Homo sapiens: one gene and its partners. The protein of the gene in region 7 interacts with the protein of the main gene of each other region in a biochemical or structural test. Each region holds a gene or a part of one and is shown on either strand. Other genes may lie near its edges.

Region 1 (3,437 bases), on a different chromosome or scaffold from region 7:
TCCCAGAGGTTGGTGGGTGGGGATGAAATTCCAACTCTTCTAATCACTTGATTTTTATTTTTGTTTTTATTTTTATTTTTAGAGACAGGGTCTCACTGTCGCCCAGGCTGGAGTGCAGTGGTATGATCCTAGCCTCACTGCAGCTTCAACTTCCTGGGCTCAAGTGATCCTCCCACCTCAGACTCTTGAGTAGGGAGGCACATGCTTCCATGCCCAGCTAATTTTCTGTACTTTTTTTTTTTTTTTGGTAGAGATGAGGTTTCATCATGTTGCCCAGGCTGTTCTCAAACTCCTGGACTCAAGAGATCCCTCTGCCTTGGCCTCCCAAGCTGCAGGTGTTAAAGGCTATTTAGAGACCTCACCCTAAGTCAACGCATTAGCATAAACTCAGGTGTGATCAAAAGGGGCTTATTATGAACAACAAAAGATATTCCCTATCACTAAGGAAATTCCATGGTTTTAGAAGCTCTGTGACAGGAAAAAATGAAAATTCAACCAAATGAACTTTAAAACTACTATGTTATACAATAGTAAAGCAGCAGAGTATCTTACTTTTATATAATTATATAAAAACTTATTTTTATATTGTTACATTGTGAATCACATTACAATTTAGTCTCCTTTTCAATAGAAAGATTTTCTAAGGACATGATTTGGAGCCGTCCACATTTATCAGATGCCTTTTCATTAATTTTTTCCATTTTTGCAATTCTTGATCCAAACTGCATGGCCCGTTTGGGCAGAAGAGCAGAGGCTGTAAGACCAAGTTCCACAGCTGCAAGGCGTAAAAGTAATTTTTCACCAATTCCTCGGGGTAAAGTCAAGTTTGCTTTTTCCCAAATCGGCAGAGAATTTAGAAAGGAGACAACATTTTCATCCAGGAAAGGAAATCTAAAATAGACAGATAATATAACCACTATGTAAAAATAAAATCAACCTGCTTTGATTTATACACAGTTTTATAGCTAAAATTTAACCAAATTGTTTCACAACATGACTAATTTTAATACATATACTACAAAATAGTCTAAATCTCAATAAATAAATTAGGTTTATTGTGTCCAGAAATAATTTCAAATTGTTTTACAAGGTATCTTTGTGGAGGCCTTGAAAACAAACATGATTTTTTTTTTTTTTTTTTGCCTAGGTGAGCACTACCGCACCCAGCTAATCTTTGTATTTGTTGGTAGAGATGAGATTTCGCCACATTGCCCAGGCTGGTCTCGGACTCCTGAACTCAAGTGACCCACCTGCTTTGGCCTCCCAAAGTGCTGGGAATACAGGAGTGAGCCACCGCACCTAGCCTACGAGCATGATCTTAACTAACTATTCAATCTGTGTCTGATCTTTATCAGGTCTAAAGAAATGACACTTTAGGGATATGGAACCAATATAGAAGGGCTCCACAGTCCTGAACCTGCAAAACACTTATGGTAAAATTTTGTTACTCAAAATTGTTTAATTATACTTAAACCAATTAAATGGTGATAAATTACTGTAACAGAACAAAATATTAGATTTTTTTCCCCTAAATTCTGGGATGACCTAGAAACAAAATATTCGATTAAAAAAAAACTTTCTGCCCTTTTCCTTCCCCAATTTCTAGAAAATTATGTTCTTTTTCTGTTTAAAATACTTTAACACCCACCATCCCACATCTCAAAATGCAATACAGTTACACTAGTGTTTCCGTTTTATTACATCCTATTCTAGGTTAAGAGATTGGAAAGGACAAAGACATTTGTTATCTGGAATATTACATAAAAATGAATGAGTTGCAAAAGCAAATTTAACTAGAGAATCAAATCAACACACTACTGTTAATATGTATGTCAAGATACGTAATAAATTATTTAGATCTAGCCACTATATTTGTTATATCACAATTCTGTATTAGCTGCTTTAAACATTCTTCATATGCATTTTTATTTGAGCATAATATAATACTTTCATAAGTAAGGGCTTTTACTAGACAAATTCCTTTCTCTATGACCTAGCTGAAATAACAGACTGAATTTCTACCTCTCTCATGTCCTTCAAAGAGAAAACAGTTTAACAGTTTACGGACTTTATTATGGCATTAGTTATCAGTTTATAGTGAAATCTTGAAAATTATGACAGAATAATGACATAGTAGCTAAACTTTTACATGGGCTAGGACCAGAAACTTAAGAAAGACAACTGTGTAAAGGCAACTACAAGTCAGTGGAAAGAGGAAAAGACTGAAGTAGAGACAAGAAACAATGAAGTCAAAGAGAGAGAGAGAGAGAGGGAGAGAAAGTGTAGTATGTTTAATTCTCATGAAGCTTACTTGGACTTCCTATTCTTGGATGCTTGCACCCTTGTAATAAACTACCACTTAATCAATTAGCCTACTTGAATGAATTTTTGCTCTTTATAACTAAATGTCACATCTTCCTTTATCCTTACTTAATGTTTTAGAAAGTTTTATTCAAATACTGTACTTGTTCACTACCTTCAGAAATATGATATAGGTAAAAATAAACCTGAAAAGCAAGAATACATACATGAAAGTGCCTTGGTTTCTTTGAAGGTTTTAGGTAATCTGCAATATGTAACTAAATTGTGTTCAAAAAACGTGGCAGAGGAATATCCAGTGTAAGGACTACCTTCAAATCAGCATGGATCTGTACATACAGAAATGTCTATAGAGACAAAGCCAGTTTCTATAACACTGGAGAAGGCTTGCAGGTGGGGCTTATGCCCTTACTGGGAGGAAAGCAAACATTAAAAGCTGAACAAAACCCTCTAAATACCTTCTCTTAGTATTTCACTATCTCAGTTTTACTCTGTTTTTTTGTGGAAACAGAGTCTCGCACTGTCTCCCAGGCTGGAGTGCGGTGGCGCGATCTGGGCTCACTGCAACCTCCACCTCCTGGGTTCAGCCATTCTCAGCCTCCCGAGTAGCTGGAACTACAGGCATGCAGCACCATGATCAGCTAATTTTTTTGTATTTTTAGTAGAAGTGGGGTTTCATCATGTTTACCAGGCTGGTCTTGAACTCCTGTCCTCAGGTGATCCACCCGCCTTGGCCTCCCAAAGTGCTAGGAAGACAGGTGTGAGCCACCATGCCTGGCCTACTTTGACAGTATTTTTCACTATAGTCTTAAAAACAATCCTGTCATTATGTTACCTTTGAAAATTACTGAAAAGACATTTCTTAGAGAATGAGTTCTAGAAAATAAATGCTCTCCTGGCTCTTCCCAGCTCTGTTTCTGACTTTGTTTATAATACAAAGCCAAGCTATTATTGCTGCTCTTATTCATGTGAACAGTCTCCAAAGAGAAAACAAACTTTAAAGTCTCCATTTACACTCTGCTGTTTTTATAAAAATACCGTAAGAACACTCAAATGATTAGAATTACCTTGCTTCTTTTCCATGATCACCAATAACTCTGTCATCACGACCAAGATTT
Region 2 (4,052 bases), on a different chromosome or scaffold from region 7:
CGCCTGCCTCCTTCCAGACAAGTAGGCCCAGCTCCCCACCAGCGAGAGGGGCACGCCCTCCCAGCTCCCTGGGTACCCTCTTCCAAAGTGGAACCCAGCTGGAGCCCTGAATGGGAGGTAACTGAAGTCTGGGCTGAGGGACAGCCTGCCTCGTCCCATCTTGCCACACATTCCTGGCCGTGAGGCTGCCTCTAGAGATGTAGGGCAACAGGACCCTCCGCTTCCTGGGAGAGCCATGGGATCAGGGTGAGGAGAGCTCAGTCTCTGGCTCCAGCCTGGAGCCCTGCTTCCTGCCCCAGGGCTTCTGAATACCAGAGAGGTCACCTGGGAGGGTAGGAGGCGGGAGATGGGGGCGGGGGGGGGGGTGGGCATCACGTCAGCAAAAGTAAGGAGACTGGGCCGGGCGCGGTGTAATACCTGTAATCCCAGCACTTTGGGAGGCTGAGGCAAGTGGATCACGAGGTCAGGAGATCGAGACCATCCTGGCCAACGTGGTGAAACCCCATCTCTACTAAAAATACAAAAATTAGCTGGGCGTGGTGGCACGCGCCTGTAGTCCCAGGTACTCAGGAGGCTGAGTCAGGAGACTCTCTTGAACCCGGGAGGCAGAGGTGGCAGTGAGCCGAGATCACGCTACTGCACTCCAGCCTGGCAACAGAGCGAGACTCTGTCTCAAAAAAAAAAAAAAAAAAAAAATTAAGAGACTGGAGTCTGGGCTTGCCTGGTGCAGAACCAGAGGCCTGACTTACAGCCCAGGCCTACCTCCCCCGAGCCCTGGTCCCTCCAGAGAACCCCAGAGGAAGAGACAGTCCGAGGCTCCTGCCCTTCCGCTGCCAGACCCTCAGCCTCCTGTAGCTTTCTGCCCCATTCCCAGATGCCATGAGGTGCTCTCTACCCTCCTTCTTGGGGTCCCGCTCCTGCAAACACCCAGGGACCTGAATGACATGAAGGGAGCCGGCTTCTGCCACACCACAGGGCAGGGCAGTTGGAGAAGGAGGGGCTTGGTAGGGCTGAAGAGAGCAGGACAATGTGGGGGTGGCCAGGATGCAAGAGGTGTCTGACTCAGGTTCTAGGCCCGTGCAGAGGGCTCTCCTGGCTCGGGGATCTCCTGGCATTCCCGATCTGTGACTCACTGCAATGCCCCACCCCAGGGAGCCACCTGTTCCCCCTATAGCTTGGCCTCCAGGCCCCACCCTGGCCCCACCTTGGCTTATAGGCTCAAAACCCTAGGAGTAACCCAGGATCGGGCATCTGCCTTCAGTGATGGGGAGGAACAGACAGCCTCTATGAGGAATGAGCCCCCCAAGTCCTCACTTCCAGCTGGGAACTAAACAAAGGCCATGCCCTGTTGGAAGCAGGAGTCCTGGGGATGCAGCCTCGGGCATACCTTTCCCAGAAGGTTCCCCTCTTCAACCCACTTCATGCCCACGCCCTGTGCCCTGCACACTCTTGGGAACCAGTCAAACCCGGGCTTCAAGGTGGCTGGTGCCAGCTCGCCCTGCCCAGCCTGTGACTGCACGCCCAGCCTGGCGCCCACCTTTACCCAACCAGGCATGGGAACACCCCTCAGCCCACCCTGCTGCAGGAAGCAGAGCCCAGGACCTTCTCACCAAGGTGTGGAGAGGGCCCAAGAAGGCCGCTTTAGGGCTGAGCTCTAGCCCATGGGCAGGAGCAAGGGCTGCTCAATACGTGGGGTGGTGGAGGAGGGGGAATGCCACAGGCTCTGCAGAGCGGGAGGCCCTACCGGTCCAGCTGCAGCCGCAGGGGCGAGGGGCTCTGGCGGATCTTGCTCTGGGCCTCGGCATGCAGCATGCCCTCCGCGCTTTCCCCGTTGATGGCCACGATTATGTCTCCAGGCCGGAGGTCAGCGTCCTTGGCTTTGCCCCGCTCGGCCACCTGTAGGGATGAGGAGCTGGCATGCTCAGACCGTGGCCCAGCTGGAGAAGGGACTTCCCACTCTGCTACCCAAGAAACACAGAGGCTGGCTTGACCCAGGCCGGCCTGCACCCTCCTGCATGTCCCTCTGCCTGCTCATGACACCCAGCTGATCAGCCATCCCCTCCAGGAGCGCAGGTGGCAGCCCCCACCCCACACTGGCATTCTAATGGGCCTCCCAAAGAATGTGCAGTGGCAGAATTTCAGGAACTGTGCTTGGAAATACTTTTGGATAGAGAGCCTTGCCCGTGCAAATCGCACCTTGCAGGTGGCTGCCTGCACAGCCCTCCTGTGAATGTTCCCAGCCTGGGCCCAGGTCAAGAGGAGACTGCCAAGAACTCCGGGGCTCTTGTTCTAGTAATCACCCCAAATGGCTGCCTGCAAGTGTGGGGATAGCAACTGGGGAGGCAAGAGCCGGCCCTGTCCTGGTCCCAGCTCCCTTTCACTCCCAAGGTCTGTTCCTGAAGTGGCCACCACATCCCCGTGGCAAAGGGCCACGGCTCCCTTACAGCCAGCACGCCAGGCAGCAGCAGATCCCTAGCTCCAGAACAGAAAAAGCAAGCCATCTGTGCAGAGTGGGGTGAACAGGGCCGACCTCGCTTCTGGCAGGACCTTCTCATCTCTTTGAGCCACCATCCTTACCTTAGTCACCATGATGGGCGTGTGGAAATCCCTGCCCCCTGTGATACGGAAGCCCCAGGGCGCTGGCCCGGCCACATCCACCGTCAACGCCATACCTGAGGAAGAGAGGACCAGGAGGTGAAGTCCATGCCCCTAGCCGGCTCTGGGGGCACTGTAAGGCAGCAGGAGAGGAGCCAAAGGGAGAAGGAGAGGGCACCACAGCTCCCGGAGCAGCTACTCAGGGGCTTTGGGGTGGGTAGAGGAAGTGGCTAACTCCCTCCCTCAGCCCGGTTTCACTTCCCCCCACCCTGGGAAGCCATGCTTCTGGGTTCTCCCTTCCTTAGTCTTCAGCCCAGGGAGCGACTCCCAGGAGGGGGCTGCCCAGGCTGCCAGGCAGGGGGCTTGCTGGAGCATGGGGGGCAGGGGCTGGCAAGTGGAGGGGATGCCAGCACCCCCTCAGTCTCCCCTCCTCCACCATCAGGGCTCAGTCCCACTAGCGCTTGCTTCCTGTCCCCAAAACCCACAGCACACGGTACTTCCTCTCCACTCTGGGGGAGGGCTGGTGAGTGGCCTAGGGAGAGCAGGGCTCAGGAAGCAGGAGTGACGGGTCAAGGAACAGGCTGGCACCAGTACAGACTGTGTAAGTCACTGGCCAGGTGAAGGACTGGTGGGGTGAGGCCGAGTCTTCACATGGGCCTCCTAGCTGCCCACCTCGTTCTTGGCAAAGTGGATCACACGGGCAAGACCGGGCTCCCCACCTCCCCCAGGGGCCGGCTGCCAGGGCAAGGAGGCCAGGGTTCATCTGTCAAGCTGGACACACCCACCCCCAGATTCCTGATGCTGCCCGACAGACAGCCGGGGTGACAGGCCTCCCATCCACAGCCCCTCCGCTGGGCAAGGAAGTGCCCTTGCAGACAGACCCCTGTGGGATTTCCTGAGCCTCTAGCTCTGGAGCCAGGAGCCAATCCAGGCAGGAAGCCGCGGTGCCAGGCTGGGCACCACCCTGCCCAGCACCCATCCTGGGGCTGCCCTGGGGACGCAAGTGCTGCGAGAATCTATCAAGAGCACCAGCGGTCTGTCCGCTCCATCCCCGGCTGCCTTCCCCTTGGGCCCAGGCCTAGCCTCTGTTCCCAGCACCGCCCCCACCCCAGTCCCCGAGGCCGGCTCGCGGCCGCCCCGAGATTCCCAGACCTTTGAGCCGGTCAGTGGACTCCGCGCTGCGGGCGCCGCGGGGAGGTGCCCAGCCCGATGGCCCGGCTCTACCAGTTCTGGAGCCTCCTTCGCTCCGAGGGCAAAGTACCCTGCGGGCTGGGGGCTGGAGGAGGAGCGCTCCGGCCGGGGAGAGCGCAGCTCGCGGGGGCGCCCCCGCTGATGCGAGGCTCCAGGGAGCTGGGCCGCGGACGAGGCCAGGGTTCCGCGCCGACAGGGGCGCGGAGAGGAGCCCGGCGCCGGGGAGGGCGGGCCGCGCGGAGAGGCGCAGGTGGGCGCGCTCACCT
Region 3 (3,500 bases), on a different chromosome or scaffold from region 7:
ATCCTGGCTAACACGTTGAAACCCCATCTCTACTAAAAATAAAAAAAAAAATTAGCCGGGCATCATAGCGGGAGGCTGTAGTCCCAGCTACTTGGGAGGCTGAAGCAGGAGAATGGTGTGAACCCGGGAGGAGGGGCTTGCAGTGAGCCGAGATCGCACCACCGCACTCCAGCCTGGGTGACAGAGCAAGACTCTGTCTCAAAAACAACAACAACAACAACAAAAAACAACTAGCCAGGCATGGTGGCAGGCACCTGTAGTCCCAGATACTTGGTGGGGCTGAGGTGGGAGGATCACTTGAGCCTGGGAGATGGGCTACAGTGAGCCCTGATCATGCCACTGCACTCCAGCCTAGGTGACAGAGTAAGACCCTGTCTCAAAGAAAAAACAAAAACAAAAACCAAGAATTGGTTAAATAAATCTTGATACAACCATACAGTAAAAATTCCCAAGTTTTAAAGTAAACATCACACAAAGAATGGATTTTGTAAAAAGATTATTTATGGCTATATATAATTTGAAAGGTTAATATGCCTAAATGGTGGCTACCTTTTTTTTTTTTTTGGAGATGAAGTCTTGCTCTTGTCCCCCAGGCTTGAGTGGAGTGGCACAATCTCGGCTCACTGCAACCTTCGCCTCCCAGGTTCAAGCAATTCTCCTGCCTCAGCCTCCCGAGTAGCTGGGATAACAGGCGGCTGCCACCATGCCCAGCTAATTTTTGTATTTTTAGTAGAGATGGGGTTTCACCATGTTGACCAGGATGGTCTCGAACTCCTGACCTCAGGTGATCCGCCTGCCTTGGCCTCCCAAAGTGCTGGGATTACAGGTGTGAGCCACCATGCCCAGCCTGCCTTCTTTCTACTCTTCTTTTTTTTTTTCTTTTTGAGATGAGTCTTACTCTGTCGTCCAGGCTGGAGTGCAGAAGCACCATCTCAGCTCACTGCGACCTCGGCCTCCTGAGTTCAAGCGATTCTCATGCCTCAACCACCTCAGTAACTAGGATTACAGGAGCGTGCCACCACACTAATTTTTGTATTTTTACTAGAGACAGGGTTTTGTCATGTTGCCCAGGCTGGTCTTGAACTCCTGGACTCAAGCAATCTGCCTGCCTCAGCCTCCCAAAGTTCTGGGATTACAGGTGTGAGCCACTGCACCTGCCCTCTTTTTACTCTTTCCTATTACTTTTTTCTTAAGTTTATAAAAATCAGGAAACAAATGATGGTCATTTTTTGAGGAAAGATTACAGAACAAAAAATGTATATAGTATTTAACAATTTAATAAGATTTCAAGATTCGTCATCATCCTGCAACAAAAACTGCTATAATCTAGCAATGTGCAGAACTTTCAAATGACTCCTGGGTTTTTACCATGCCACCACCCTGCATCGTACATAATGTTTTCAAAGTATTTTCATACATTTCAAGTACCTAAGATTATTCCATACTTAGCTCAAGTATCATTCTCCTATGAGCCTTAAGTTAAGGTTTAGATTAGTCCATTAAAACTCACTTCTGGGCACTTATTTTGAATTGCTATTTTCGTAGTCTAAGCAGGTATAGATCATTTTCAGTCTCATTAAATTAGATTTTTCAAAGTACTAGAGAGTGAGTTAATCTACATTTGTCTTCAAAGTCTGAAACACAAAACATGTTAGCACAATATGAATTACTGAGGCTCGGTCCTATAGAACATTATTGGTTTCATGTAGCAAATACTGGTTACCTAGTATATGTCATGAGGACAAAGATGAATAAAATAGTCCCTGTCTTCCCAAAGCACACCTCAAATGTTAGTAGAAAATAAAAACATGTAAACAAAACTTTAATGAACAGAACATTGTAGGGAACAATTAATTACCTAAGGAAGGAAAGAAAAACTTCACAAAGGAGGTGACGTCCAAGTTAAGTTTTGTTTGGTTTTGGTTTGGGTTTGAGTCAGGATCTTGTCGTGGAGTCCTGGGCTCAACTGATCCTCCTACTTCAGCCTACCAGGTAGCTAGGACTAAAGGCATATGCCACTGTGCCCAGCTCAAGCTAAGTTTTGAAAATGTATTAAGTTTGCTGTGGGACGGTAACCCCAGCACTTTGGGAGGCTGAGGCAGGAGGATCATTTGAGGCCAGGAGTTCAAAGCCAACCTGGGCAATATGGTGAGACCCCATCTCTACAAAAATAAAATACACAAAACAATTTTTTTAATCAGATGGGCATGGTGGTACACACCTATAGCCACAGTTACTTGGGAGGCTCTCCTGAGACCAGAAGTTCAAGAATACAGTGAGCTATGATTGTACCACTGCACTCTAGCTCTGGGCAACAGAGTGAGACCCTATCTCAAAAAAAAAAAAAAAAAAAAAATAGTGCAAAAGCAAAGAGTTATGATAGACTATGGTTTGGAAAGTGAATTCGGTATGGCCGGAGAAGACTAAACACAGATACATCTAGAAGAGGTACAGTTGACCTGATTATTAATGTAAACCACACTAAGGGGTTTGATCTTTTATCCTGCAGGCAGTTAGGGCACAGGTTTTTAAAAAATAAGTAAAAATTAAATTTGTGTTTTAGAAAAATGCCTCACTGTGATAACTGTGATGATTGGACTGAAAAGAGGAACCGACAACTAAAACATTTACTTAAGGGAGCCCAAGACAAATGGTTTTCAAACTGTGCTCATTTTTATAAGCAACCAACTAAAAAAAAGTAGTTTTGCTTATTTGAGAAAAAGAAATATTTACCGTCGTCTTTTGAAGGGTGACTTTGGCATATCTGCTGTAGGGATCATCTGTTCTCCTGGCCTTACCCACATTATAGGCCCATCATCACTCTGGGACCTACACTGGAGTCGGAGGCTAGAAAGTGTACCCCAGGGCAAAGTCATCTAGAAATCAGACGGATTAGTCACATTAAAAAATTGTTTCAATGATTTATAAGTTAATCCTCCCACCCAAATAAAAGTTCTAAGAAGGCTTTTTTACAACTGTATATAAAGAAATAAATGCTATTTACATAGTAATTTATATTAAAAAGAATAATTGAATTTAAGTACTTTGTACTAATATTATTCTATCTAAACATTTCTGTGCAAAACACTGGATAAATTTAATTTCAATAGGCAATATTAGCTAAATACTCTTCAACATATAAAGTGCCCACTTAAGTAAAGATCAAAACTTTAATAATCTTAATTAACACTCACTTTCAGAAATGGTGATTCTTCTAACATATCAAGGAACTCTGGGAAATAATCACCAACTTCTTCATCTACTGCTCCAACGAGACTTATCTGCCGCATAGGACCTGCTCGGTAGGTGCCACAGCAGTATGTCCTGTTGACCTAAGATAAAACAAAAGAGGGAAAAATGGACTGAGGTACAACTATAATATAATTAAAGAATTAAAATAGGTTATTGTTTCCAACGTTGCCATTTCTTCTACAAACTAAGAACTGAATGGTCAATACCTTGAATAAAGTCAGAGAGGCACCCAAGCACACTGACAAATA
Region 4 (3,500 bases), on a different chromosome or scaffold from region 7:
CAGCAGGCTCTACCATCTAGGTTTCTGTAAGTACACTCTATGATCACACAATAACAAAATCACCTAACGACACATTTCTCAGAACACATCGCATCATTAGGTGACAACTGTAAAAAGCAATTGTCAGTGGTTATATGTGTATGTGTAATTATGTGAGTATATTTATCAATAAACTATATAAAATAAGTACTTACACAAGCAATTGCCTGGACTACTCCAATAACTTCTAACTGGTCTCCCCAGTTTGACTCCCCCCACCCCAATCCTTCCATTCACCATACTCCATCCAATGCATTCTCTTTAAAATGCAAATCAAACTGATATTCAATGTCAAAAGGCTTCAATGGCTTCTTCAGTTTACTAAGTGTGTTATACATGTAATTCTCCCTAAACCTCTATGAGGTAAGCACTCTTATTGGGATTATCACCAACACTGATGAGTAAACTGACATAATACAGGTGTTAACCTGTATAAGATCACACAGCTGGTAAGAGCACAGAGTGCTGCATTGGAGTGCATGTTCTTTACCACCATACTATGCAATTTGAAATACAACTAATAAAAAATATAGCTTTAGGCCAGGCGCGGTGGCTCACGCCTGTAATCCCAGCACTTTGGGAAGCCAAGGCAGGCAGATCATCTGAGGTCAGGAGATCAAGACCAGCCTGGCCAACATGACGAAACCCAGTCTCTACTAAAAATACAAAAGTTAGGTGGGCGTGGTGGTGGGAGCCTATAATCCCAGCTACTCAGGAGGCTGAGGCAGGAGAATTGCTTGAAACCAGGAGGTGGAGGTTGTGGTGAGCTGAGATTGCGCCACTGCATTCCAGCTTGGGTGACAGAGCAAGATTCCATCTCAAATAAAACAAACAAACAAACAAACAAACAAAACCAAAAAACCAACCAGCTTTATATCACTATGAGTTATACTTTAAAGGTAAAAGTTATGGTGGCTTCATGGAATCTAGAATATTCTTGGCTACAGCACTGAAAACACTGTCGCTGTGCATAACCTCATTTTGGCTGCTGTGAGAAACAGAATAATAGCCCCACAAAGATGTCCACATCCTACTCCCCAGAACCTATAAATATCTTACTTTACATGGTAAATAGGAATTGCAGTTGTAGATGGATGAAAGTTGCTAACCAGCTGACTTTGAAATGGATAAATTATCCAGAGTTACTCAGGTAAGCCCAAGGTAATGACAAGGGTCCTGATGAGTGGAAGAAGGAAGCAGAAGAGAGAGAACAAGAGAGGTGGCAGCCTGGTGTCGCAGGGCCGTGAGTGGGGACAGGTGGCAGCCTGGCAGGACAGGGCCGTGAGTGGGGCGCCTCCAGAAGCTGGAAAAGCCATGGAAACAGATTCTGCCCTAGAACCTCCAGAAGGAATGCTTCATGCTGATACCTTGATTTTAGGCCAGTGAGACCTGTTTCAGACTTCTGACCTCTAGAAGTTTAAGACAATCAATTTGTATTGTTTTGTTTTTGGTCATGTGTTTCACAGAAATAGAAAAGTAATACAGTTGGGTTATTTTTTCTGAGTTCTAGCCTTGTTAACAGTAACACCGTCCAAGAAAACAATCCCTGGTTTTAAGTTTTATTTTGCTGCTTTTGCCAAAGGAGGCACCTGACCCAGGTTCTGATTCCCCTTTTCCATCTTCACCACCATCTTCCTCAAAACATCAGTCTAGCAAGAGGGGTATACTGGAGTATTGACTCAGCAGTGTTACTACTATATTGCTATGGGATGAAAAAATATTATTTTAAGAATGGCCTTTATAGCTTCCTGGTGGTCTGACTTCAATAAAGCTAGCAGCTCTTACCTCTATATTCCAATACATCTTCTCTATGAGGAAGGCCCACAGGAGGAAACCAATGCAATGGAAACCATGGGTGGTGAACATCCGTAAGCTCCTGTGGGCTCCTCTCATTAAACTGCTCATGTGGGAGGATAAATGAGTGTTTTCAGTCATAGGGAACTCACTGTGCTCAGGCTGAAGTTTTTGTTTTTGACTTCATTCTTTCTAATATAATTTCTTTCATAGTCTTGAAATGGTTGTTAAATCCACCTACAAGCCCATTTTAGCGTTTCTGTTCATCAGATAATTGAGACTGTGCCAGCACGGAACCACTTCTCTCCAGCAAATTGATTATGGCAGTTGCTTCTTAACAATAGATACAGAGGGCAGAATTTTCCTAGTACCGGTTCCCTGGAGTGCTGTTTTGGGTCAGTTCTGGCAAAAAGGCAGAACCTTGTGATTTTACAAAAGATTCAGACCTCTCTCCCCTACCACAATCTTTATCAGTTGATGAGAGATTAGACTCAGGCTAAGCGCCTGGATCAGGTTCCAGTCCAGATCTGAGGACCAGCTGCTACTGGTTAGGTGGAATCAGGAACTGATTCATGATCAGCTCCTTGGCTCTGAGAGACCCCAAAAGGCATGACAACACCCCACCAAACACGGAATACTCATTCCTATTATTTTTTGACATATCAGCTTAAATGATGCCTCAGAGAAATCTAACACTCCACCTACTTAACATGAAGTTAGAGCTTCATGATTTATATTGCAATCAGTTCAATCTATACACTTCTTTTACCTACCCTACCTCATCCCCATTCCATCTGCTGTGGTTTATGTCCCCCCACATTCATATGTTGAAATCTAATCACCAATGTGATGGTATTAGGAGTTGAAGGCTTTGGACCGTGATCTGGTCATGACAACAGTGCGCTTACAAAGAGACCTCAGAGCTGCCTTGCTTCTTCCGCCATGGGAGGTCACCCTGAGAAGGCTCCATCTATGAACCAGGAAGTGGGCCCTTGCCTGACACTGAATTTGCTGGTATCTTGATTGTGAACTTCTCAGCCTCCAGAGCTGTGAGAAATAAACGTTGTTTATAAGCTACTCCGTTTATGGTATTTTGTTACAGCAGCCTGAATGGACTAAGGCACCATAGAATCAACAGGCATATATTTATACCTACTATTAACCAGGAACTTTGCTCAGCACTGGACATATAGTGGTGAGCAAACATCAAGAAATTCCTTTCCTAATGGAGTGGGAAAGAAAAATGTAATTCAACTAAACACACACAAAAATATCCATATATCAACAGGGATACTGACATCATCGTTTAAATAACAAGAACAACAACAAAAAAGCAATCCTCCAGACTACTAAGAAAGATATAAAGAATGCTGATAAACAGCAGGATAAAAAGGAAAGAAGGGAGTAAGCATGATATTATAAATGATAGGAGTGGCCAAAAGAATGGCACAGTTACATCTGGGAAGAATATTAAAAAGATGAATATGTAATAACAGCATAAGAAATCCACTAAGTCTTTAATAAATAAAATAGTATTGGATTATAACCCAAAGTATAAAACAAATATTTATGAGCCCATACTGATAGAAAAATAAATGATTAAATAAATAAATGAAGGGAAGGGAGAGACCCATCTCCCATGCAGAAGAGCTCCAAATAATTTATGA
Region 5 (3,500 bases), on a different chromosome or scaffold from region 7:
AGGAGAAATATCGTTTCAGAGTTTCCATTTTAACCAGCCAACCTGTCACATGGTTGATGTTCTTCATTTGAAGGTTTAGCTAATAAGTTCAGGCACAGAATGAAGATGGCAGAGCATTAGAAGGGGCTAAGTTTAGCATCAAAAATCTGTGGGAAGGATGCTGACTTGAGTGGCTAAAGACATTCTGCTTAATTAAAATCGATTCTTTTAACCCTTTTTTTGCTCTCATCTCCTACTGCATGTGAACGTTCTACAGCTAATTTATCTCAAGCAATAGATTGACATGGTTGTCTCAGTGTTTGCAAAGGAAATTTCAAGGCATTATTTGTAGTAACAAAAGCAAAACAAACGCCCCTAAATCCCACAGCAACAGAACAGGTGAATCCAGCATAGCATATCCACTCCATGCTCCTCCTCTCCCCTCTTCCATCCCCTCCCCTTTCTTCTCCTTCCTTTTCCTTTCTTGTTTTTTTACAGTGAAGCAAATACATGGCAAGATTTGGTCCAAAATAAAGGAAATATTGAAAAAAGGTTGTTTTGTTTTCAGGTGATGAGGTCTGTAAGTGGATTCCCCCTTAATTTCAATAACGTTGTTTGGGCAACCAAAACAAAACAACAGAACAATGTTAACAATGTTAGGTTGTATCTGTTAGTCCTTCAGAACTGGTCATCAAACTTCAAGTTTATTGTTTGGGTTTTTGTTGGTGGTGGTGGTGGTTTCTGTTGTGGCTATTGCTTTGCATATTTTGATGTTGCCTAACAATTACACAGGAGCTTCCCGTGCTCGATCCTGAGGACCTCTGAGCTCCTCTGGTCCAGAGGTACAATCCACACATGGATCCAAAATAAGGGCTGAGAACAGGGAGAGGTGGAGCTGGCCCAGGAAACTACTGCCTCTCCTCTGTGCCCACCTGCCATTGAACCTTCAACTTCCTTTCATTTAAAACCAGACTGGCCCCTCAGTCTCCCAAGGAGCACTCAGTAGGCTTTCATGGTCTTGTAATTTATTTTAGTTCTAACAATTGTTTCATTTGCTAAGAGCATACTAAACTATTCAGGCAGTACATATATTTAAAGTATCCTTTAAAAACTCCTCCTACTGAGGCTTTTGTCCACTCCAGAGCATCCCCCATTTTCCTGACAAGGGGAGTGTTATGGGGCCTTTCCCATGTGTTGGGAGGCAACACATCTGTACCTCTTTGATATTTATGGAGACAAGAGTCAGAGAAATGGGGGCTTAAATAAAGGGAGAGAAGAAAACGGGGGAGATTTTTAAATAACCATTAAGCCCCAGCAGAGGTGTAAAGGAATCCTCTGTGCAGTGCAGTCCTCTCTGGTTCTTTGCTGCCCGCGTCTGCTTTAGTCTATAATTTGGATTTTAAATGCATCCCTTGGGCAGGAACCCAGTGGCTGGTCTTGAGGGTCCAAATCCTCCTCTAAAACCTCAGAAACTAACATTTTAGCCTCCCTGTGCTACAGTCCTGGTGGCCACTGTGTATTCACCAAAATCTAGAAAACCTAAATTGGTTTTCTGCTGAGAACTAGGCAGCATCCATGTGACTTCTGAATGTTCCAGGATGCTGGTGATGATGCCCCACATTCCAGATCACTGCCAATTGCAGCACCATTTCGTGGAGTGGGATAGGGGTGAGTGGGAGTTAGAAGGAAGGATCCCTGCCTGTGATGTGGGTTCCTTAAGGCTGCAGGGTGGTTGAACATGCCAGAGGGCAAAGTACCCCCTACCCGTCAACGCTCAGAGACAGACAGTCAGCAAACAGTGTCAGCCCCGGTGGGGTGTGGCTGCCTCCTGTTAACGCAGGCTTAATTAAGTGACCCATTACAGTGAGAAGTGCAAGAAAATCTAGGCATAGTCACTTGAATAACAGAATTCCAAGCAAGTGGAAATAAGCCTATTTAAAATGGCTATCTATCTCGGGGAATATTAGTTCTGTTGCTGAGTATACTGTGTGAAACTGTTAATGCCCAGTTAATGTGGCATTCACTAATCATTAATACACGAGTTTTCTGTGAAGGAGGAGAAGAAAGGAAAGATTTCTTCCCTGAAGCTACCTTCGGTCAGTGTTAGCCATCAACTCAGCACCTGGCACATTTTTAGACAAAACTACCCTTTAGCTGTTAGTCAAAAAAATCCTAGCCCTGTCTCCACACCCCCATCTTTCCAATCCCTTCTTTAAAAATCGGCCGGGCGCGGTGGCTCACGCCTGTAATCCCAGCACTTTGGGAGGCCGAGGCGGGCGGATCACGAGGTCAGGAGATCGAGACCATCCTGGCTAACACGGTGAAACCCCGTCTCTACTAAAAATACAAAAATTAGCCGGGCATGGTGGCGCGCGCCTGTAGTCCCAGCTACACGGGAGGCTGAGGCAGGAGAATGGCGTGAACCCGGGAGGCGGAGCTTGCAGTGAGTCGAGATCGCGCCACTGCACTCCAGCCTGGGCGACAGAGCGAAACTCCGTCTCAAAAAAAAAAAAAAAAAAAAAAAAAAATCAAGTCACTCCTTTGCTTCAAACCTTCTAGTGGCGTTTGTCACCCTTAGCTTCAAATCCAAGCTCTCCACCATGACCAACAAAACCCTGACGCTTTGGCCACTGCCCACTTCCCCCACCTCATGTGATACTATCCTGTCCCTCACTCCCTCCAGCCCCACTGGCCGCTTCTCTCAGGTTTGGCACTGGCGGTTTCCCCAGTCTGCTACGCTCTTCCTACCACCGGCTGCTTCTCACGAATTAGCTGCGAAATCGCCACCTCAGCAAGATCTTCCCTGAGTCCCTGTTTCACCCTGTTTCTTTTCTTCACAGCTTTTATCACTACCACAAATCATTGTTTATGTCTCTCCACAATAAAAATGAACAAGAATTTTGCCTGCCTTATTCATTGTGTGTCTTTAGCACTCACAGCAGTGCCTCGTACATAGTAAGTCCTCAAAAGATATCTGTGGACTAAAATGAATGAGTGTTGTGTATGTAAAAATGACACCATCACTAAAGCATGCTTTGAATTGACATCCAGCGGGGCATGGGTTGTGCTGATCTATCCCCCTCTGTCTTTGAGGGCACCTCATAAGCAATGGTCCATGTTTGCCAAGAGTCCAGGCCAGGGTTTGGGGCACAGTATGAAAGAAGGAACAGAAGGTGGGGTGTGGTGGCTCTTGCCTGTAATCCCAGCACTTTGGGAGGCTGAGGCAGGCAGATCACCTGAGGTCAGGAGTTCGAGACCAGCCTGGCCAACATGGTGAAACCCTACTAAAAATACAAAAATTAGCCAGGTGTGGTGGCACATGCCTGTAGTCCCAGCTACTCAGGAGGCTGAGGCAGGAGAATCACTTGAACCCAGGAGACAGAGGTTGCAGTGGGGCAAGATCGCACCACTACACTCCAGCCTGGGTGACAGAGTGAGACTCCATCTCAAAAAAACAAAAAAGAAAAAAGAAAGTACAGCAAAAAAACAGACTGGGCTCATATAGAGATTAAACCCAAGAC
Region 6 (3,500 bases), on a different chromosome or scaffold from region 7:
GGGTTGTTGATGAAGGACATGTGGTCCTCATCAATGATGTACTTCTCCACGCTGCTGCCAATGCCGCTGGTTGTGCCATTGCCATTCTTCTGGAAGTCACCATTCCGGTGGATGTCTGCACCGGTGTGATTGGCGATACAGTTGGCCTTCTTTTCATACAACTCATCCAGAGGCTTCACCTCATCAGCCTCACGCTGCTTAAAGTGGGCCTGCATGAAGGCGTGCACCTTTAGTTTGGTCCAGGCCACACCCTTCTTGATACGGATCACTGAGATCTGGAGGTTGTTCATTTCCCCATCGTCATCTGTGGCAGCCAGGTTGTCTGCACTGAAGGAGCTCAGGAGCAAGGCCAGAAACAGGTTCAGCACCTATGCCAGTAGCATTGGAAAAAAGGAACAAATGCAGAAAAGTTATCCATCGAACTCAGGGTTGCAAACTGGAAGCCAATGGACTTCACGTGACAGACTCAAAGAGGCTCTGTTGTGTTGTGTTTGGCCCACGTAGTATTTTAATGCTCATGTTACCAGGTGGGAATGTGTTTGGTTTTGGTTGTAATACAAGGAGTTTAGCACCTCTTTTCTTGGGTCTTTTATAGTTTTACATACATATATATGTACCCGAAAATATATTACTTCTCTTATAATCAGAAAAAACAAAGGCTGTATCCATTTTGGAAGGACATTTCCCCAAAATAAAAAGGTGAATATACATTACTGGGGAGGGTCACAAAGTGTACAGATGCCACATATTCATGAGCAGAGTTTGAGAGGACCCACGTCAGAAAAAAAAATGAGGCTTGAAGTGCCATCCTTTCATACAAAAAACCAAGAAGGTAGAACTGAAATACACTTCATGTCATCATATTTTAAGAACAAATTTTGTTTTCCTAACATTTATAAAAATAAAATCGCTTTAGCAAGACAGTGATGGTGACTTTTATATTTTTTTGCATAGCCAAATGTCAAGCCATCAGATACAAGCTTTATTTATTTTTGTTTTAATCTCCTATTTTACTACATTGAACATTAAGGTTAATTAATTTATTTTTATTAAGACTTACTTTTTAGGAGTGGGAGAGGTGCTCACTTCTTGATTTACACTTGGTCCTTACTTTGTCATACTTGGGAAGAAGAGTAAGGCATACATTTTAGGAGGAGATAACAGTCATGTGCAGAGTGGGAGGGTGGAAACAATAAATGAACTATAAGTGTTCGGATTATCTGCACCATTTGTAGAGTTAAAAAGGAATATGGTTGGTAAAATGCGGGTGAGTTGGAGAGGGCTTTGAAGGCCAGGCTGAGGGATCTGAATTTTATTTAATTAGATCCACTACTGGTTCTTGAGTAAAGGAGTCACAGATGATGACAGAGATTTGAAAGAGTCATTCAGACTAACTACATACAGAGGGGAAGGGCAGAAGTTAGGAGGCTGTTACATGCATGAATTGATAAGGGTCTGGATTAGGCTACAGAAATCCCAAATCTTAGCATGCATTAGAATCTCAGGGAGTGAGGGGTGTGGATGTTTGTTAAAAATATTTCCTTAGCCTACTCTAAAGATATTTGGATTCAGTAGATTTGGTATACAGCCTGGGACTTGGCCTTTTTTTGTGAGTGAAACTTGTGTAATTATGATGCAGGTGGTCTTGAGACCACATTTTTATAAAGTACTGAATGAATTATAGAAATGCAAAGGAAGGGGCAGATCTTAGATACTATGAAGAAAGATATCCACAGAAATACTATGAAGAAAGATGCATTTAAGACACATCAGATATTTGCTGGGAGTGGAGAGAAAAGAGACAGAAAATACTCCAAAGTTATAGGTTCCTAGAAACTAGATGGGCAGAAGGACTACTGAGCAAAGGGGAACCTGAAAAGTGTCATCAGGGGGTAGTGGTAACAGCTGATATTTATCAAGTGCTCAGGTATCTGGAGACAGCCATGGGGAGATGTCTTTGAGACAAATAAGAACAGGAGAGTGAAGAAAGGGTGGCAAAGTCAGGGCTTGAAAATGTTGATCATGCTACATACCGGGAAGCCATTGTTATAGTCACTGAAGTAGTGAGAAGACTAGAGGGATTAGGACTGAGGGAAAGGTGGCTGGGAATGGAGAATAGGAAGAATTAAACATTACAGTAGCTATTTTTTTTGTAGGTCAAATGGAAGAACAGAATAGTTGTAGCTGGTTCAGAGGCTGGTGAGTAGGAGCCTTTTACTGTCATGCTTCTCTGTGGCAGAAAAAGGAAGAGAACTAATGTGGATGAGCATGTTAAGGGACAGATAAGCTTGTCTTCTTCCAGTCCTCTTTGCCCTACACTTGCAGGTGGGATTAGGGGCCTGATCTGTAAGATAGTCCTTTCTCAAACTTTAGTGTACTTTTGAGTCACACAAGGATCTTGTTAAAAATGCAGATTCTGATTCAGTAGTTCTGATTTGGGGCCTAGAATTCTGCATTTCTAACACACTCTCCAGTGATCTTGTTGCTGCTAGTCCTCAGATCACACTTTAAGAAGCAAGGTGTTAAGATCTGTTGGTGACTCTTCTAAAGACAGAGGTAGAAGAGAGCAGGTGGACAGATCAAAGTAAAGCAATAAAGTGATTTGTCATTTATATAAATTAAATAAAACTCTAAGATGGTTTAGAGCAGTGGCTCTCAATGGAGGGCAATTTTGCCCCCCAGGGACATCTGGCAATGTCTGCAGACATTTTTGGTTGTCACAGCTCTCAGGATGCTACTGGCATCTAGTGGGTAGAGGCCAGGAGGGACGCTGCTAAACCCTACAATGCACACGACAGCCCACAACAAAGAATTATCCAGCCCAAGATGTCAATAGCACCACAGATGAGAAATTGTCGTTAAGAAAAAGGAAGGCTTCTGTAGGCGAACGGGCACAGACTTTAAAGTCTAGGTTCAAATACAAGCCCTATATTTATTTGGGAAAGTCACTTAATTTTGCTGAGTTTGCTTTCCTAACTCTAGGAAAAGGGTTGACAAGTTGTGGGGGTCATGACTAAGTAGGCACTCTGTAAGTATCTCTCTCCTCTCCTTCATTTGTACCTTAGGGTTTCTGGGCCAAGAAAGAATAAAAATCAACAAACATGACGGGTAGTAGAAGGACTAAGCAGTAGAAGGACTTGGGCTTCTGGGCCAGGGGTAGAATATTCAGGGTGTAGAACAAAAATATCTACAAATTAGTACTAACCACCAAGTTGCCAATCACCATGACCATCATAAAGACAATGAGGCACATGGCCTGGCCTGCCACTTCCATGCAGTCCCACATGGTCTCAATCCACTCCCCGCACAACACTCGAAAGACAATGAGGAAGGAATGGAAAAAGTCATGCATATGCCAGCGAGGGAGTTCACAGTCCTGGTTGATCTTGCAGACACACTCTTTGTAGCTTTTTCCAAAGAGTTGCATCCCCACCACGGCAAAGATGAAGACAATAATGGCCAGCACCAGTGTCAGGTTGCCCAGGGCACCCACTGAATTT
Region 7 (3,184 bases):
GAGACTCTGTCTCAAAATTAATTAATTAATTAATTAAAGGCAGCCTCTGCAAAGGAAATTGACCTGGCACATCAGACAGGCATAGGCCCAAATCCTGGCTCATTTCCTTACCTGCTGTGGGACTATGGGCAAGTCAGTTACCCTCTGTGAGCCCAGTTTTCTCATCAGGAAAAAGAGGGGTCATGAGAACCTCTACCACAGTGGTCATTAATTGATGTGACCCTGGTGGGTTCAACCGTGGCTCAGGCACCACAGTGCTTGCTGTGTGATCTTGGGCTAGTTGCTAAAGTCCTGTGTGCTTTAATTTGTTCACATGTAAAATAGAGATAATCTACCTCATAGAGGTGTTAAACGATGATTCAACAAGCTTGGAACAAAGCTCGGCACCATTTTAAGTGCTGAAAAAATGATAGCGATTCAGCCACTGAATCTTTTTGCAAGACTGACCATGTATCAGATGCTATTCTAAGCCCTGGAGGTGCAAGGAGGGAGCGAGCTTTCACTTAGGCAGTAGGAAATGAACTTATGAACAATTTCAGATCATGACAAATGCTCTAGAAAACAGAGTAAGGCCTAAGGCCAGGTGCAGTGGCTCACACCTGTAATCCCAGCACTTTGGGAGGCCAAAGTGGGAGGATCACTTGAGCCCAGGAGTTTGAGACCACCCTAGGCAACATACACCCCATCTCTATTTTAAAAATCAAAAAATTAGCTGGGTATGGTGGTGTAAACCTCTGGTCCCAGCTGCTCGGGAGGCTGAGGTGGGAGGATCACTTGAGCCTGGGAGGTAGAGGCTGGAATGATCTGTGAGCTGTGATCACACCACTGCACTCCAGGCTGAGCGACAGAATAAGACCCTGTCTCAAAAAAAAAAAAAAAAAAAAAAAAAGTAAGGCCTAGAGAGTGACAGAGGGGCCTACTGTAAATGAGTGGTTGGGGAAGAAGGTGGCAGTGGAAGCCTCTGATCAGAGACCCAGGGCCTGGCCCTGCAGAGAGAACAGGGGTGAATGGCCTGAGGCTGCACTGGCTGTGGCCAGTTCCAGGATGAGTTCAGTGGCCAGTGGGACTAGAGTCCCTGAACAGGGCCTGGTTCCCTGTTGGACACAGGGCCTGGCCCTTGGAAGGACTCAGGCCAACCGGGAATAGGGCTGCTAGGGACCTGTCTGTCGGGCCACCACCTGAGACCCTGGGGGCACAAGCGGGCTGGCTGTTTCCTTAACTGAGGCCTGTCAGTCCTTCCTGGAGACGGCCCAGCCAGCACTTCGGGCGCTCGACGGGCTGCAGCGCGAGGCCATGGAGGAGCTGGGCAAGGCGCTGGCCTTCTTTGGGGAGGATTCCAAGGCCACCACCTCTGAGGCTTTCTTCGGCATCTTTGCAGAGTTCATGAGCAAATTCGAGGTGAGCCTCGCTGGAGCCCTGAGGGGCCCTTTTGGAGAGGTGGGGGCCAGAGGCCAAATGAAGGGATCCTCCATGAAGCCAGGGCTGGGAAAGGGGCTCCAGTGAGCGACATGTCCCCCTAACCCCCTGATGGGCTGTCTAGTGTGGGAAGAGACAGGGAAGGCGTCACAGGTTCCTGGGACCACTGACCACCCTACCTCTGTGTTCCCCCTCCCCAGCGAGCGCTGAGTGACCTGCAGGCCGGGGAGGGCCTGCGCAGCTCCGGGATGGTTTCACCCCTGGCCTGGTGACAGTGGCCACACCGCGTCCTCTGCGGCCTGAGCAGGGAGATGGAGGCCGAGAGGGCAGCCCAGACACTGCCGAGGTCCGGGGCCACTGTGCCCCGGGCTCTGAGCACACCGCCAGCCTCTCCTGCAGCTACCTCAGCCGCCGAGCTGTGGTCGGGCCCTCCTCTGCCAGCCCTTGTTCCTACCCCCAGGCCCAGAGCCAGATGCTGTAGGAGCAGGTGCTGAGTGTGCCTGCACATGGAGGACCGTGCTCTGTCGGCTTCTTGGGCCCACTTCCCACTTCGCTCCCAGGCTGTCAGGGGGGCCTGGAGGGTGGATTACAAAGTGGCCACATTCCTGGGACATGTGGACCTTTTTTCTGATCCTGCTCCTAGTGGGTCCCTGTGAGGGGGCCGACACCCTTGAGCACGACCCTGCAGGCAGGCGCGAGACGCGAGAGGGCAGAAAGCCGGATGTAGAGGGGCCCTGGGGATGTGCACGCCCAGCCTGGGCCTTGGAAGCTGGCTTCAGGGACACAGGAAGAGAGAAGCCTGGGAGAGACGCAGGGAAGGAAGGACTGGAGAAGGAAGACCCCCTATGTCAGACTGCGGAATTGAGGTTTCATGCAGTGGACAAACCCAAACCTGTGTAGAGGTGGCCCAATTGGAAGTGGGGAGCCTGGGAGTGGAATAGGTGTGGTCAAGGTAGAGCAGACAGAATGGGGAGGTGTTGAGGCAGGAGGTGAGCAGGATCTGGTGGCCAACTGCCAGACTTCTCACCTGGACGGATGGTGATGTTCCCTGGAGCAAGTCATGAGACCGGGGCAGGTGTGGGGGCAGATGACACAATCTGGGATGTGTTTGGGACCCAAATGGTCATTTTACATGTGCCTAGGCATATAGCAGGAGTTACCTGGATACCAGGAGCAGGAGCAGGTGGCGTGGTGGGCAGGGAGGGAGGGTGTGTGAACTGTTTCACCTTTTTTAAAATTCTCTGATTGACAGATCCTTGGATCAGACAGCTTCCCTCGTTGCACTTTTTTTTTTTTTTTTTTTTGGAAAAGTCTGAAATGGGCTTTAATCCTGTCTCATGGATTCTTTTTCTCCCACTGCAATCAAATGGCTTACATTGCACCTGGGCAGTACTGGGAACCTGTTCAGTTCTTCCCAGTCTCCCCTAGGCCCCTCTTGGAAGCCACCTTTGTTTTTTTGTTCCTTGCACACAAGCACCATACAAAAACATCAAAACCAAAATATATACTGCAAGGGGGATGTGGCTAGTGGGGTACATTTCACCCTAGCAGCTCAAGCAGAATTGTTTCCAAAAGTTCCCAGTGCCTGTGTCTCTGGGAAACATGTCAGGAGGTCAGTTAAAACCTCTGCAGGCAGGGCGTGGGGGCTCACGCCTGTAATTCCAACACTTCGGGAGGCTGAGGCAGGTGGATCACCTGAGGCCAGAAGTTCAAGACCAGCCTGGCCAACATAGTGAAGCCATATCTCTACTAAAAATACACAAAATTA

Evidence for each region.
Region 1: the proteins of GRID2IP (region 7) and ASNSD1 interact in a test that uses a peptide from one of them, tested with the Homo sapiens proteins (one large-scale study listed by IntAct).
Region 2: the proteins of GRID2IP (region 7) and PDLIM2 interact in a test that uses a peptide from one of them, tested with the Homo sapiens proteins (one large-scale study listed by IntAct).
Region 3: the proteins of GRID2IP (region 7) and RSBN1 interact in a test that uses a peptide from one of them, tested with the Homo sapiens proteins (one large-scale study listed by IntAct).
Region 4: the proteins of GRID2IP (region 7) and JAM2 interact in a test that uses a peptide from one of them, tested with the Homo sapiens proteins (one large-scale study listed by IntAct).
Region 5: the proteins of GRID2IP (region 7) and TMEM178A interact in a test that uses a peptide from one of them, tested with the Homo sapiens proteins (one large-scale study listed by IntAct).
Region 6: the proteins of GRID2IP (region 7) and SCN8A interact in a test that uses a peptide from one of them, tested with the Homo sapiens proteins (one large-scale study listed by IntAct).

The regions. Positions count from the first base shown.
Region 1 is NC_000002.12:189,667,895-189,671,331, reverse strand, and holds the end of ASNSD1 (asparagine synthetase domain-containing protein 1), read right to left. Parts: coding exon 3,387-3,437; intron 892-3,386; coding exon 606-891; 3' UTR 501-605; downstream 1-500.
Region 2 is NC_000008.11:22,579,223-22,583,274, reverse strand, and holds the start of PDLIM2 (PDZ and LIM domain protein 2), read right to left. Parts: upstream 2,801-4,052; 5' UTR 2,673-2,800; coding exon of another isoform or gene 2,671-2,672; coding exon 2,578-2,670; intron 1,897-2,577; coding exon 1,745-1,896; intron 1-1,744. UniProt on the Homo sapiens protein: Probable adapter protein located at the actin cytoskeleton that promotes cell attachment. Necessary for the migratory capacity of epithelial cells. Overexpression enhances cell adhesion to collagen and fibronectin and suppresses anchorage independent growth.
Region 3 is NC_000001.11:113,774,477-113,777,976, forward strand, and holds part of RSBN1 (lysine-specific demethylase 9), read right to left. Parts: exon of another isoform or gene 3,344-3,500; intron 3,333-3,343; coding exon 3,195-3,332; intron 2,877-3,194; coding exon 2,734-2,876; intron 1-2,733. UniProt on the Homo sapiens protein: Histone demethylase that specifically demethylates dimethylated 'Lys-20' of histone H4 (H4K20me2), thereby modulating chromosome architecture.
Region 4 is NC_000021.9:25,642,258-25,645,757, reverse strand, and holds part of JAM2 (junctional adhesion molecule B isoform 1 precursor), read right to left. Parts: intron 2,911-3,500; exon of another isoform or gene 1-2,910. UniProt on the Homo sapiens protein: Junctional adhesion protein that mediates heterotypic cell-cell interactions with its cognate receptor JAM3 to regulate different cellular processes. Plays a role in homing and mobilization of hematopoietic stem and progenitor cells within the bone marrow.
Region 5 is NC_000002.12:39,707,417-39,710,916, reverse strand, and holds part of TMEM178A (transmembrane protein 178A isoform 1 precursor), read right to left. Parts: intron 1-3,500. UniProt on the Homo sapiens protein: Acts as a negative regulator of osteoclast differentiation in basal and inflammatory conditions by regulating TNFSF11-induced Ca (2+) fluxes, thereby controlling the induction of NFATC1.
Region 6 is NC_000012.12:51,765,733-51,769,232, reverse strand, and holds part of SCN8A (sodium channel protein type 8 subunit alpha), read right to left. Parts: coding exon 3,206-3,500; intron 369-3,205; coding exon 1-368. UniProt on the Homo sapiens protein: Pore-forming subunit of a voltage-gated sodium channel complex assuming opened or closed conformations in response to the voltage difference across membranes and through which sodium ions selectively pass along their electrochemical gradient.
Region 7 is NC_000007.14:6,496,278-6,499,461, reverse strand, and holds the end of GRID2IP (delphilin), read left to right. Parts: intron 1-1,233; coding exon 1,234-1,398; intron 1,399-1,616; coding exon 1,617-1,688; 3' UTR 1,689-2,684; downstream 2,685-3,184.